Regions from separate parts of the Homo sapiens genome. Here region 2 is linked to region 1. Evidence: fine-mapped expression QTL. A gene starts in region 1. The other region holds a variant in brackets. All regions are shown on one strand. Distances are between the middles of the regions.

Region 1 (4,290 bases):
AATAGAAGAGAATACTGCTGTCTGGGACTAGGTGAATACAGATCTGTTTTTAATTTTCAGGCTTCCTTGTGAAAATTTAATGTTTAAAACATCTAAGCCAGGTTAAAAGTTCTAATAGTTCTGACTGCTGGTAGAACGGACATAATTCTTCATTGCGAGGTGTCCTTGACAGAACGCCTCTTGTTATTATAGAGATACAGGCCTTATGAAGATTCTTTCCTTCATGGTTACCTCTCTTCCTCTGTTTTCATTTGTTTGTTTGACCAAGTCCTACGCTGTGCATACTCCAGAATCACACACACACTGTGTCACTTATCAATCCTGCCGTCCCTGATTTCAGTTGATGATTTTTGTCTATTACTAATGTAGATTATCTGATTCTACCATCACTCTATTAGCTGCTAATGGCCTAATTCAATTGTTATCTATAATCTGTTATTTTTCTTAAGAAATTAGGTCTATGATTGAATTTTTCATAATTTTTCTCTGCAGCAAACTTCGTTTGGAACATCTGGGAGTGATAACTCAAAAGTAGCAATATTCTTGATATGGACAGGGTAGTATAGTGAAAGTGGCGGTGATTATCCTCATTTAAAAAGTGAGTCTATTTTACATTTTAATTGTGGTGATGAACATATTTCAAGGAGATACTAGCTTATACTTAGGAGAATGCTCTCAGTGCCAACAGACAATGAGGGATCAATTTATCATTAACTGATTAGACGAGACTTATTTTGGCAATTGGAAAGAGAAGGCAAATATATCCAGAATGTTCAGAGAATTTCGTTTTTTATTCCACTTTCCATAGTCACTTGTATCCAGAGCTTATATTTTATTTTTGAGTTGAATAAAATAACATTCATAATGTTATGGCATGATGTGTTTTGGTACATTCAGCAAGTGCCACAATCTCACTGGGACAAATCCCCATACCATTCATAATCGCCAATAGTTACAATAATCACTGTTTAGCTTTGTATTATGTACTATAACTTTTACCAGGCAATAATAGTCACTTGAAATAACCATATTCAACTTAAAGGAAATTTAAGAGTTAAAAATATCTATGTGATTATCAAAGAAAATGTAAAAAGCTGAACATAGAACTGTTTCTAGTAATATGGTAGATAAGCTACCTAGAAGCTTGGCTTATACACCACAAAACATTTAGGAGACTTGTATAAGAAAACTCCCAGTATTTTTTTTTTTTTTTAAAGGAAGCTAGAAACCAGAGCTTTCAGCTGAGGCTGTGAATGCTGTAAGCTACACGGATGTGCTTTGGTCAAGGAATGGGCCGAGGCAGACATCCCGGCCTGCATGACTCAGCGGGACTGGTGCACAGGCACACACCTCTACTTGTTATATAACCTGTTTCTGTAAGCTCATACTTGGCTCTATGCCCCTATTGTTTGTAAAAGGTATAACTGCCCTGCTGATGCTGTGCAGGGGCTCTTGGGCGTGGCTTGGCTCGGCTTGGCATAACATGGCTCAACATGGCGCTGGTGCCCAGAGAACGAGAGAGCGAGCCAAAGCTGTCCGTCTTGAAGGCGGGCAGGGGGAAGCCAGGAACCAGGAAAGAGTTAAGCTTCTGACCCGGAAGAAAAGGGAGAGCTGGCCGCGCAGCTGTGCGTGGAAATGGCCGGCTCAAGCAGCCGAGACAGAGCAGAGTGTGAGAGAGCTAATGGAAGTAAGCTGCTGAAGAAACCGTATTCACCTGCCTATGGCCCGTGAGTGTTCTTGAAGCTATCTGGCGTTCATCCACCCACTCCCCTCGGACCTCAGCATGGGCTGGAACCTCACCCTAGACCTAACAGATGCTCTCATGAGCACTCTTCAAACTCAGAAATTTCCCTTACGTCATCACGAGCCGAAGATTTCTAATTAAAGTATGTCAAGATGAAGTGGACTTAATTGACATCTGCCTTTTAAAGTATAATTCGTTCTTTTCTTGAAACTCGGATCTCTAAGTAGTAGAATATTTAGTAAATATAACTCCCATCCTTATTCTAGGCGATTTGGGAAATAAAATATTAGATGTGAAGCTTAATACAACGTTTGAAAATATTATAAACACTTTGTTTTAGTCTATTATTTTGGTTGTTAATGTCAGAAACTCAGATCAAGTTGGATAAATTTAGGAGACTCAAATATTTTCATAAGGGTGCGTTTTCTCTCCATTTCTAGTATTTCCTCTGTAGTTTAGGTTTATTTTCTCCCTCTGTAGATGGACTCCCTCTATAAAGTCAAGGAATATTACGGCCACGAGTGGTGGCTCACGCCTGTAATCCCGGCACTTTGGGAGGCCGAGGCAGGCGGATCACGAGGTCAGGAGATCAAGACCATCCTGGCCAACATGGTGAAATCCTGTCTCTACTAAAAATACATAAATTAGCTGGGTGTGGTTGTGAGTGCCTGTAATCCCAGCTACTCGGGAGGCTGAGGCAGGAGAATAGCTTGAACTAGGGAGGTGGAGGCTGCAGTGAGCTGAGATGGCACCACTGCACTCCAGCCTGGTGACAGAGCAAGACTCCATCTAAAAAAAAAAAAAAAAAAGTCAAGGAATATTACTAGCGGCTCAGATTTGGTTGCATAGTTTATCTGCCACAGTGGGAAAGGGGTGTGAAGCCTTCTTACCCAAAAATTCTGATAAGAGTGACTAGAGTTAATACAACGTGATTCTGATGATTGGCCCTTGGTTCTGAGCCAGGTTGTCAACCCAAAACAACAACAAAAAGCTAAGAGAATATGCTAATCCCATTGCCAAGTCTAGCACCATGCTTGATGCCAGAGAGTTGCGTCAGTTCCAGCCAAATTACACAGATAATTAGGAGAGAAGAGATAAATTGTCAAAGAAAACAGGTGTGCAGTTACTAGCAGGAGAGCAAATGAGTGAGTTTACTCTTCCTCTGGTACTCCCAGAACCAAAAATGTCCAAAACCTAAACTTCATATGTCATCTCATTTTATTTGCTATTTGGTGAGTAGCTTTACCAAGTTGTCATTCTTTGAGAGCTCTAGGATCAACGGATTCTTCTCCCTGCCTTTGAGCTTTTAACAGATTCTTTAACGTCCGCTGAACTGTTAATACACTGCAAATGGCATTGGATAAAGGGAATGGGTTGTAGCTTGCTTCTGCCAGTAGTTACTATCAGTTATAATTGTAGACAATAAATCCAATTTCTTTAAACTCCAAATTTCTTGTTTGAAAAAATTCTATGCAAGATTCAATCAATTTTTTAGACTCTAGATCCTCTTGGATCCAAACAAGTTCCCTCGGTTCTTTCAAAGTCACTGAATTTGATTGCCATATATTTATAGAGTTCATGGCTTGTAAATATAACTTTTGGAAAATACTCAAAATTTTAGATTATTATAATTGCAGATCCTTTTTCACCCCACTAACATCTCCTTTCTCCCGATTGTATGCATTGTCATCGAACCTTCGTGGTCACTTAATAAGTTTAAACAATTTTGGATATTTCCAAAAGCCCGTTTTGTTTTACCTTCAATTTGAAAATCAAACAAAATACTAACTTAGACTCAAACATGTAATCCCTTTCAAAGGTGTAGATTTGTTTTTCTGTTTTTTAGCTCCTAATGAAACTGATAAAATATTTATTTTATCTAATATAACTAGAGAGAATATTGGTCATTGGTATTTGCATCCCTTCCTACTGTTCATCTTCAGTATGTTACAAATTTTAACAAATATCTTAAACAATGGCCTATGAGTTTATGTATTTTCATTAGTTATAAAATATAACTGACATAAAATAAGCTGCATGTACTTAAGGCATATAAAGTGATAAGATTTGATACGTGTATACACCCATAAAACCATCACCATAATCAAGAGTGAGTACATCCATAATCCCCAAAGATTTCCCGTGCCCCTTTCTTATATCTTTTCTTCCCCCACCCATGTCCAGGGCTACCACTGATCTGCTTCTTTCTCTATAGATTAGTTGTGTTTTCTCAACATTTGCATAAATCAAGCCACGAAGTATGGCTTCTTTCAGTTAGCATAATTATTTTGCAATTCATACATGCTCTTGTGTTTCAATAGTTCAATATTTCTCACTATTAAGCAGTCTTCCATGATAGGTATATACTAAAATTTGTTAATCCATTTAATGATGGGCAGTTGTGTTGTTTCCTGTTTCTGATTATTACATATAAATCTGCTATGGCCATGTGTATACCAATTTGTATATGGATGCATGCTTTTTTTCCTCTTGGGTAAATACCTAGGAGTAGAATGTCTCCATCATATGATAGGTAGATGTTTAAA
Region 2 (4,290 bases), 510 kb after region 1:
TAAGTAAAGCCAGGTTTGCATAATTTTTAAGCTATATTGTTAAGTACTTTTGACACAATAGACCTAGGGAAAGAGCCAAAGTCTTCTGGAATATGCAGCATTTCTCCAATACTTACTAAGCAAAGCAAAGAATTTTTCTTCAGATGTATTTATTATTTATTAGAAAGGAGTATTTCAAGTTCTCATTGTGTGTTTCCAGTTTAAGATTTTCACGTCTCATCATTTTTGTGTGTTTTATTTTTCTCTTGTCTTTTGAATCTGCTTTGTGGAAATGTTCTCAAAATTTTCTTCTGCATTACTGATATGGTTTTCTACAAAATAAACTCTGAGTTCAATTAAAATGTTAATTTTGTTACTGCACTTTAAGGTTATAAGCATCTAATGTTATTGTCTTTTAATATTGGCACATTTACCCTATGTGGTTTTCTGCTATGATTTTATGAAAGCCATATTATTTTTCACCTACCAGATGCTAAACACTTTTCTAAGGTATTTTTCATTTTTTGTATTTACAAAGGTTCAAATAATTCAAAGAAAATGCATTTTTTACTACCATATCTATATGCAGCAGATAAGAGGATGGAACTTAGTTTTAACATTTGCTTGCTTCATTAACATAATTAATAACAATTTTATTTCTTGCTTTAGATGTAATATTAAATTATTTATGTTCTTATGTAAATTATTCTTAGAAATATATATTTTATCCAAATTGATGTAAGAATTTCTATCTGTTCATTAAAAAATGGACTTTGTGAGTCTTGCTCTAAAAGTAGTTCTCACTATAGTGTATTGTTTAAGCTACAAAGGCAAAGCACAACTGAGAATATAAAATTTCTGATTAATACAGAACCATACTAAGAACCAAGGTGATAATGAAGTTGAATTTAAGAATTATGTAGATATACTATTACTATCAACCGAAAGTAGTAGGATAGTTACACAATTTAGTTCCAAAATGTGTGCAAGTTCAACTAGAGGTATTACAAAAAGAATGTCAATACTTCTCATGTAATCTTGACTACTTTATATAAGAGAAACAATAATGCAGGATTTCACTTTCACATGCCTGCAGAGGGTGATTAAGAATTAAACTGTTAAGAAAAAAAAAGCGAAGGGGGCAGGGGGAATTGGTGGTAAAAATGAAACTGCCAATTGCATTCAAACTAATTAAAAACAAAATACACAAAAATGACGAAACAAATCAGTCTGAAGGATAGATCACACAAGTTTTTCTTTTTTTTATGGTCCAATGTATATACTAAGTGAATAACTTTGGCTTTTGTTATCCTAACATAGCTATTGATTTTATTTTGGCTTATTTCCTTGACATTTTATTTTTATTTATTTATTAATTTATTTTGTTTTATTTTACTGTAAGTTCTGGAATACATGTACAGAATGTGCACATTTGTTACATAGGTATATGTGTGCCATGGTGGTTTGCTGCACCTAACTACCCATTATCTAGGTTTTAAGCCCCACATGCATTAGCTATTTGTCCTGATGCTCTCCCTCCCCTCCCTCCACCACAGGCCCCGATGTGTGATGTTCCCCTCCTTGTGTCCATGTGTTCTCATGGTTGAAATTCCACCTGTGAGTGAGAACATGCAGTGTTTGGTTTTCTGCTCCTGTGTTAATTTGCTGAGAATGATGGTTTCCAGCTTCACCCATGTTTCTGCAAAGGACATGATCTTTTTATGGCTGCATAATATTCCATGGTGTATATGTACCACATGTTCTTTATCCAGTCTATCACTGGATAAACCAATCATTTTGGTTGGTTCCAAGTCTTTGCTATTGCAAACAGTTCTGCAATAAATATACATGTGCATGTGTCTTTGTGGTAGAATGATTTACATTTCTTTGAGTATATACCTAGTAATGGGATTGCTAGGTGAATTGGTATTTCTGGTTCTAAATCTTTGAGGAATTGCCACACTGTCTTCCACAATGGTTGAATTAATTTATATTCCCACCAACAGTGTAAAAACATTCCCATTTCTCAACAGCCTCCTCAGCATCTATTTTTTCTTGACTTTTTAATGATTGCCATTCTGACTAGAATGAGATGGTATCTCATTGTGGTTTTGATTTGCATTTCTATAATGACTAATGATGTTGAGATTTTTTTCATATGTTTCTTGGCCACATAAATGTCTTCTTTTGAGAAGTGTCTGTTCATATTCTTAGCCTACTTTTTGATGGGGTTGTTTGATTCTTTCTTATAAAAAATTTGTTTAAGTACCTTGTAGATTCTGGATATTAGACCTTCATCAGATGGGTAGATTGCAAACATTTTCTCCCATTCTGTAGTTTG[C/A]GTGTTCACTCTGATGATGGTTTTTTATTTTTTTTCTGTGCAGAAGCTCTTTAATTAGATTCCATTTGTCTAGTTTGCTATTGTTGAAATAGCTTTTGGCATTTTTGTCATGAAATATGTGCCCATATTCTGAATGTTCTGTATGCCCATATTCTGTATGTTCTGAATGGTACTGCATAGATTTTCTTCTAGGATTTTTATAGTTTGAGGTTTTACATTTATGTCTTTAATCCACCTTGAGTTAATTTTTGTATAAGGTGTAAGGAAGGGGTCCAGTTTCTGTTTTCTGCATATGGCTTGCCAGTTTTCCCAGTACCATTTATTAAATAGGAAATCCTTTCCCCATTGCATGTTTTTGTCAGCTTTGTCAAAGATCAGATGTTTATAGATGTATGGTATTATTTCTGAGGTCTCTGTTCTGGTCCATTGGCCTATGTATCTGTTTTGGTACCAGTACCATGCTGTTTGGTTACTGTAGCCTTGTAGTATAGTTTGAAGTCAAGTAGTATGATGCCTCCAGCTTTGTTCTTTTGCTTAGGGTTGTCTTTTTTGGTTCTGTATGAAATTTAAAGCAGGTTTTTCTAATTCTGTGCAGAATATCAATGGTAGTTTGATAGGAATTGCATTGAATCTATAAATTACTTTGGGCAGCATGACCATTTTCATGTTACTGATTCTTCCTTTCCATGAGAATGAAATGTTTTTCCATTTGTTTGTGTCGTATCTTGTTTCCTTGAGAAGTGGCTTGTAGTTCTCCTTGAAGAGGTCCTTCACATCCCTTGTAAGCTGTATTCCTACATATTTTTTTCTCTCTGTAGCAATTGTGAATGGGAATTCATTCATGATTTGGCTCTTTGCTTGTCTTTTGTTGGTGTATAGGAATGCTTATGATTTTTGCACATTGGTTTTGTATCCTGAGAGGTTGCTGAAATTGCTTACAGCTTAAGGAGTTTTGGGGCTGACACGATGGGGTTTTCTAAATATAGAATCTTGTCATCTACAAACAGAGACAGTTAGACTTTCTCTCTTCCTATTTGAATATGCTTTATTTCTTTCTCTTTCCTGATTGCCCTGGCCAGAACTTCCAATACTAGGTTGAATAGGACTGGTAAGAAGGAGCATCCTTGTCTTGTGTTAGTTTTCAGAGGGAATGCTTCCAGCTTTTGCCCATTCAGTATGATGTTGGTTGTGTGTTTGTCATAAATAGCTCTTATTATTTTGAGATATGTTCCATCAATTCCTAGTATATTGAGAGTTTCTAACATGAAGGAATGTTGAATTTTATCAAAAGCCTTTTCTGCATCTATTGAGATAATGATGTGCTTTTTGTCATTGGTTCTGTTTATGAGATTATTGGGAAACCCGCCCCTGATAATTCAACATTATTTCACGTAAGTTCTTTTCTATTTCCCTAAGTGTCAGCCTGTCTGAGAAATAATGGAAAAGAGTACAAAAGAGAGAAATTTTAAAGCTGGGTATCTGGGGGAGACATCATATGTCAGCAGGTTCCATGATGCCCCCCAAGCCACAAAATCAGCAAGTTTTTATTAGTGATTTTCAAAAGGGGAGAGAGTGTACAAATAGGGTGTGGGTCATAGAGATCACATGCTTCACAAAGTAGTAAAATATTACAAGGCAAATAGAGGCAGGGCGAGATCACAGGACCAGGGCGAAATTAAAATTGCTAATGAAGTTTCGTGCACGCATTGTCATTGATAACATCTTATCAGGAGACAGGGTTTGAGAGCGGACAACTGGTCTGACCAAAATTTATTAGGCAGGAATTTCCTCATCCTAATAGTCCTGGGAGCGCTATGGGAGACCAGGGCTTATTTCATCGCTTATCTACAACCATAAAAGACAGACATTCCCAGAGTGGCCATTTCAGAGACCTACCCCTAGGAACGCATTCTCTTTCTCAGGGCTGTTTCTCGCTGAGAAAAAGAATTCAGCGATATTTCTCCTATTTG

Alleles and levels. Alleles are on the strand shown, and positions count from the first base shown. SD is a standard deviation of normalised expression in the study named.
For the expression in prefrontal cortex of the gene that starts at base 1,626 in region 1, allele C in region 2 goes with a lower level than allele A (moderate effect, 0.55 SD a copy in CommonMind).

The links. PIP is the estimated chance that this variant, and not a neighbour inherited with it, causes the effect. A credible set is the group of variants that fine-mapping cannot tell apart.
Region 2: its variant is the best candidate, but not a certain one, in a credible set for the expression of LINC01098 in prefrontal cortex (CommonMind, PIP 0.88).

Annotation. Positions count from the first base shown.
Region 1 is chr4:177,727,132-177,731,421 of GRCh38, forward strand. LINC01098 (long intergenic non-protein coding RNA 1098) reads left to right here and starts at 1,626. Exons shown (of 6, transcript NR_028342.1): 1 at 1,626-1,886. RefSeq lists an enhancer at 753-1,952.
Region 2 is chr4:178,232,168-178,236,457 of GRCh38, forward strand. No RefSeq gene overlaps it. Among named protein-coding and RNA genes, the nearest start is that of LINC01099, 330 kb to the left of the region's middle. The variant C/A (reference allele first, on the strand shown) is at 2,321.